Regions from separate parts of the Homo sapiens genome. Here region 1 is linked to region 2. The links come from fine-mapping of genetic effects on gene expression. A gene starts in region 2. The other region holds a variant in brackets. All regions are shown on one strand. Distances are from middle to middle. Region 1 has its middle 21 kb from the start of KCNMB3. Region 2 holds the start of KCNMB3 (potassium calcium-activated channel subfamily M regulatory beta subunit 3).

Evidence for each region. PIP is the estimated chance that this variant, and not a neighbour inherited with it, causes the effect. A credible set is the group of variants that fine-mapping cannot tell apart.
Region 1: its variant is the best candidate, but not a certain one, in a credible set for the expression of KCNMB3 in B cells (Fairfax 2012, PIP 0.63).

Annotation. Positions count from the first base shown.
Region 1 is chr3:179,270,328-179,273,246 of GRCh38, forward strand. No RefSeq gene overlaps it. Among named protein-coding and RNA genes, the nearest start is that of KCNMB3, 21 kb to the left of the region's middle. The variant C/T (reference allele first, on the strand shown) is at 1,306.
Region 2 is chr3:179,249,884-179,252,802 of GRCh38, forward strand. It overlaps KCNMB3 (potassium calcium-activated channel subfamily M regulatory beta subunit 3), which reads right to left and starts at 1,231. Exons shown (of 3, transcript NM_171830.2): 1 at 860-1,231. The coding sequence starts at 1,107.

The sequences.
Region 1 (2,919 bases), 20 kb after region 2:
TGAAGTCAGGAGTTCGAGACCAGCCTTACCAACATGGTGAAACCCATCTCTACTAAAACTACAAAATTAGCTGGCCATAGTGGCGCATGCCTGTCATCCCAGATACTTGGGAGGCTGACGCAGGAGAATCACTTGAACCCAGGAGGCAGAGATTGCAGTGAGCCACGATCAGATCGTGCCATTGCACTCCAGCCTGGGCAACGAGAGCGAAACTCCATCTCAAGAAAGCAAAACAAAACAAAAAAAGATCTGCCTTTGAGATCCAATAAAGTGTATGAAACCGTAAGTTTGCTTGCAGGAAGCAGGTATCTTCTCTCCTGGAGTGACAATAATGCAAGGATTCCCCCATCAGCTGCTGAGAGGCAGCGCTCACCCAGAAAGAAGAGAATTCAACAACTGCATGCCCAACCCAACTTTCCCTAGACACATAATGATAACTTGGGTGCCCTGAGTAACCATGTGCCAGGGATTGTGCTCAGTGCTATGAGAACATAATGTCCTTCAGACACAGAACTTGAGGAGGTAGGAACTTTTTGCGCATTCAGCAGATGAGGACACAGAAGACCAGAGAGTCCGAGGAACTTGTGCAAAAATCACAAAGTAACAAGGGCTAGGTCCGGGGCTCCAGAACAGATCACATCCAAAAGTCCATGCTTCTACTGACAATATTCGGCCTCCTCGCTCAGGAGGAGCTTGGGCTTATTCTTTTAAGTGTCTTATTCTCAAGGCTTGAAGGAGCCTTAGCCCTTTGCGCCAGGAATGTTGCTGGCCAAGTTGTTATACAGACAGGATGTTCATAGCTTTTTATAAGTCTGCATGTCTTGATCACTTTTAGATAAATTCTATTCCGGATCTGATGAAGCCCCCATTCTTGGCAAGTGATATCTGATCATGAATTTTGATGCATTCCTAAATGTTATAGAATAACCCCTATTAATAAGAACACAAATAACCTGAATTCTTAATCAATTAGAAGTTATTTTATTTTGTTTTTTTTCTGTTTCACTTTCTAAGGAGAAAAAGACAAAGAATAGAAAAATAAATCTATATCCAGTGCTTAATTTTTTTTGTATGTGTGACAGAGTCTCACTCTGTCGCCCAGGCTGGAGTGCAGTGGCGAGATCTCGGCTCACTGCAAGCTCTGCCTCCCGAGTTCATGTCATTCTCCTGCCTCAGCCTCCCGAGTAGCTGGGACTACAGGCGCCAACCACCACGCCCGGCTAATTTTTTGTATTTTGTTTAGTAGAGACAGGGTTTCACCGTGTTAGCCAGGATGGTCTCGATCTCCTGACTTTGTGATTCGCC[C/T]GCCTCGGCCTCCCAAAGTGCTGGGATTACAGGTGTGAGCCACCACACCTGGCCCCAGTGCTTAATTTTTAAAAATAAAATCCCAGGCCAGGTACAGGGGCTCACTCCTGTAATCTCAACATTTTGGGAGGCTGAGGCAGGTGGATCACTTGAGGCCAAGAGTCTGAGACCAGCCTGGCCAACATGGCAAAACCCTGTCTCTACTAAAAATACAAAAATTAGCTAGGTGTGGTGGCACACATCTGTAGTCCCAGCTACTTGGGAGGCTGAGGCACGAGAATCACTTGAACCCAGGAGGTGGAGGTTGCAGTGAGGCAAGATAGCGCCACTGCACTCCAGCCTAGATGACAGAGTGAAGCCCTGTCTCAAAAATAAAAAATAAAAATAAAACAAAATCCCAGGAAAGTCCTTGAGGATTAGTAGTAATTCACATAACTCTGTTGTTTCAGGTAAGACAAATACATGGATAGTATGTTCCCGACCCCATGGCGCACACCTTTGTTAGCTCCTGCTGAGCTTGAAATTTTAGCTCCATGAAGGCCTGAATCTGTGTCTTTTATTTATAACTGTATCACCAGCTCCTGGAATAGTGCTTGGCATGGATGCTCAGTAAATAGCTCCTGGATGATTGAATAAGCTGGACACTACTGCAAAAACTATTCTGTATTCACCACTAAAGGCAGCAACTTCCAACAAATTGGGGTAGGCTTGAAAGATTAAACCATTAGGCTATCCCTGTATAGCTCTTCTATTTATGTCTATAGTCTCTCCACATTGTGAATTAAAATTCAAAATGATGGCTGTGAGGATCTGCAAGATTCCTGCTCACTCTATTCTACAAGCATTTAATGAGCCTCTCATAGTGTAGAGTTCAATTTGACTCAAATATTCCACTTTAGTGGAATATTTAGTGGCGCCTCAAAAGGAACGGTGCCACCTCCTGGTGGGCATTTGGGAATCTGTGGGTGAGGGTGTTTCTTGGTTGTCACCATGATTGGAAGGGCACTGCCAGGTACTTAGGGAGTGGAGAGCTACATGTGGCAGATGTCCTACAGTTTGCAGGGCAGTCCCACACAACAAAGAATTGCCCGAAGTGTGATGGAAATTAATTTCATGTCCACTGCAAATTAATGTAGATGACAGGGCTACTTATTATGATCTGAGTTAAAACCTAATGCCATTTTACATGAAGTACAAAATACCTTGTGTTGAAGTATTTTTTGTGCTTTTTCAATATCCACTGAATTTCCCCAAAATGCATCTACTATGTAAATCGAGAGAAATTTGTACTTTGTTTTATTCAGACATTTCCAAAGTTCTTCACCATTTTAGGAAACCACAACACCATCAGCAAAGCTGTTCATGGTACTTGAGTTTCCAAGGCAATAACACACCCAATACAACCTGTTCCCAGCTGTCACATCCACACTGTCCATATACATGTCAGCAGCTGACCACTTCATTCTATTACTGATGTAGCCATGCTCAAGGATTCACATGAAGAATTAAATATTTAATGAGAAATTACTGGCTGGGCGTGGTGACTCACACCTGTAATCCCAGCATCTTGGGAGGCCAAAGTGGGCAGATCACTTGAGGTCAGGAGTTCAAGAC
Region 2 (2,919 bases):
GGAGTAGGGGGAGGGAGAGCATCAGGAAGAATAGCTAATGCATGCTGGGCTTAATACCCAGGTGATGGGTTGATCTGTGCTGCAAACCACCATGGCACACGTTTACCTTTGTAACAAACCTGCACATTCTGTACATGTACCCCGGAACTTAAAACAAAAATTGAAGAAAAAAAATCATAAGGAAGAGAAAACATGTTTACTATTTACTAAATGGAAGTGGATCATCATAAAGGTCCTCTCCCTGTCCTCTTCATGTTGAGTAGGCTGAGGAGGAGGAGAAAGAGGAGGGATTGATCTTACTGTCTCAGGGGTGGCAGGCACAGAAGAAAATCCATTTATAAGTGGATTCCCGAAGTTCAAACCCATGTTGTTCAAAGGTCAACTGTATCACTACATATATTGAATAAAGAACCTAATTAAAAGGAAGGAAACTAATATGTATTGAGCAACTACTATGTGCCAGGTAGACACTGTCAAACTCAAAAAATTCAGACTCAAAAAACTTTTATTGTGCTCACATACAAGGTTTAACTCTCTCTTGGAATACCAACATTTTAAGGGGAGGATTTATGACCTAAATGAAGAAACTATAATTTGTGGATTACGTGTTTGGAGGTATATATAGATTATGAGATGGGAGGAGGCAGTGCAGGGAAATATCTTTGACCTTCTCGCCACCTCTTCCTCCACACCCAGCTGCCCCCAGCACTGACAGCGGAAGAGGAATTGTATTTTTCTTTTTCTAGACCATGGCAGAGAGTCACAGATTGAGAAACCAAAGCCAGCCTCTCCTCCTTTACCGCTGTGCCTGGATCTTATCTGAATTGGAAACTCTAGATTTCCTTCCTCTGTTTCTTACCTGAGCATAAAAGGCTTTAGAATGGTTGTTCCGAGCAAGAAGAACATTAGGACTGAGAAGCCCATCATGGCAAACCCCAGCATCACGGCTCGGTCCTCTCCAGCACTGGATGGCAGCCTCTTGTGCACATCTAGTGGGTCTCCATCACTGTAGTCTGTCTCTCTCTTCTTCCCTGAGGCAGGAAAGGCTGTCCTTTGGGGAAAGGGAGAAGGAGATACTGCAGTGAGCTCATAAAGAAGGGGGAACATTTCCAATCCATGGGGACTGGAGGGATAATCTCATTTGCTGCCTACCTGTGTCTCGTGAGCAGGATGAATGCAACAAAATGAAATCCCAGTTCAGAGCTTGGTGAAAAGTCCATCTAAATAAGCTAAAGTGATGTGTAATCAAGTATTTTTAAAGATATTGTAGCAAACAAGCCTAAGAAATGTTGCCTCATGCAAGTCTGTAGAGATCTGTTTAATCAATAACTAGAGAATGTTGTATGTAAATAAGTGTTACGAACTTTGTTATCTTTCAGGGATATTGCACGTCCCTCCTGAAAATTTGTTTACATTCTCCTTTGAATTCCACATGGAAAGAATGACTCAAAAAGTTCACATTTGGAATTAACAGCGTCCTGAACAGGGTTTGACTTATTCTTTCATATTCACCTGTTGGAAAGGCAGCATATCCACCACCAGAATTTCTGGCCACTGCCCAGTCCACTCAGAATTATGAAGTTGTCATGGCTTCTTTGCTCCTCTCACCCTCCTTCTCCTCCTCTCTGGCCACTCATGGTTCTGCATAAGTGTCCCTTCATTTCTTCTCTCCTCTCTCCACTGTGCCTGCAAACCTGCTCCAGCAAAGGATGAGATACATTCTCGCAGGGCAGGGTGTCTGGTGAACAGAAGAGTCCAACACAAAGGTCGCAAACCGGTGGGCATGGCGGCATCCAGCCCACAGATGTGTTTTGTTTGGCCTTCTCTGTCGTTTTTTGTTTTTGTGTTTTTTGGTTTTTTTTGAGACGGAACCTCGCACTGTTGCCCAGGCTGGGTACGATCTCAGTTCACTGCAACCTCCTCCGCCTCCCAGGTTCAAGCGATTCTCCTGCCTCAGCCTCCCTAGTAGCTGGGATTACAGGCGCCGGCCACCATGCCCAGCTAATTTTTGTATTTTAAGTAGAGACAGTGTTTCACCATGTTGGCCATAATGGTCTCGAACGCCTGACCTCATGATCCACCCACCTCAGCCTCCCAAAATGTTGGGATTACAGGCGTGAGCCACTGCACCCGGCCTGGTTTATTATTATTTTTTTAATGTGGGATAACTTGTTAAGACCTTAAAAATCATGACATTTCTCATAAAAATGCTGAGTTCTGACTTTGGAAATAATCCCAAGATGCACGTCCCTGCAGATGAACAGCGGGCCCAGCAGAGCAGTGGCTGCCCCTGTGGAAGGTGTGTTCTCTAGTTTGCCAAAATCCCTCCACTTCCTACAGTGTCACTGATTTGCCATTCCCTGCTCAGTAGCCATTTGAGTTCCAGAAGTATCTCCATTTTAAGAAGCTTAATGAAATCTTAAGCCAAACAAATGCAGCACTAATGGTAGAAACACAGGCTCCATCAAGCTTCCTAAAAGCTTACTGCATTTTAAAGTCAAGCAAAAACCCCATCAAGGAAATTACTGGTTGTTTTTTTCCCACAAGCATAGTTTATGCCTTATCCCACATCCTTCCCCTTCCCTCTCCCTAGCTCCCTTTTCCCCCAGCAACATCTTTAGGTTCTAAAGCGAGTAAAAGGAATGTCAGACAATCCAGAATGTTCCAAGAGCCTGTGCCAGGAAGCACCAACCTCAGAAGGTGGGGCACTCCATGGTTAACACTTCTTTGGGACCCGAGGATCTAGTTTAGGAATTTTTAGTTGTCTTTGATATTTTACTCATCCCCTATCATCCTACCACCAGAGAAGGGGCATGGAAAAAAAATTTAATGAAATTTGAACCTGTACTTTTTTTTTTTTTTTTTTGAGATGGAGTCTCCCTCTGTCACCCAGGCTGGAGTGCAGTGGGGCAATCTCGG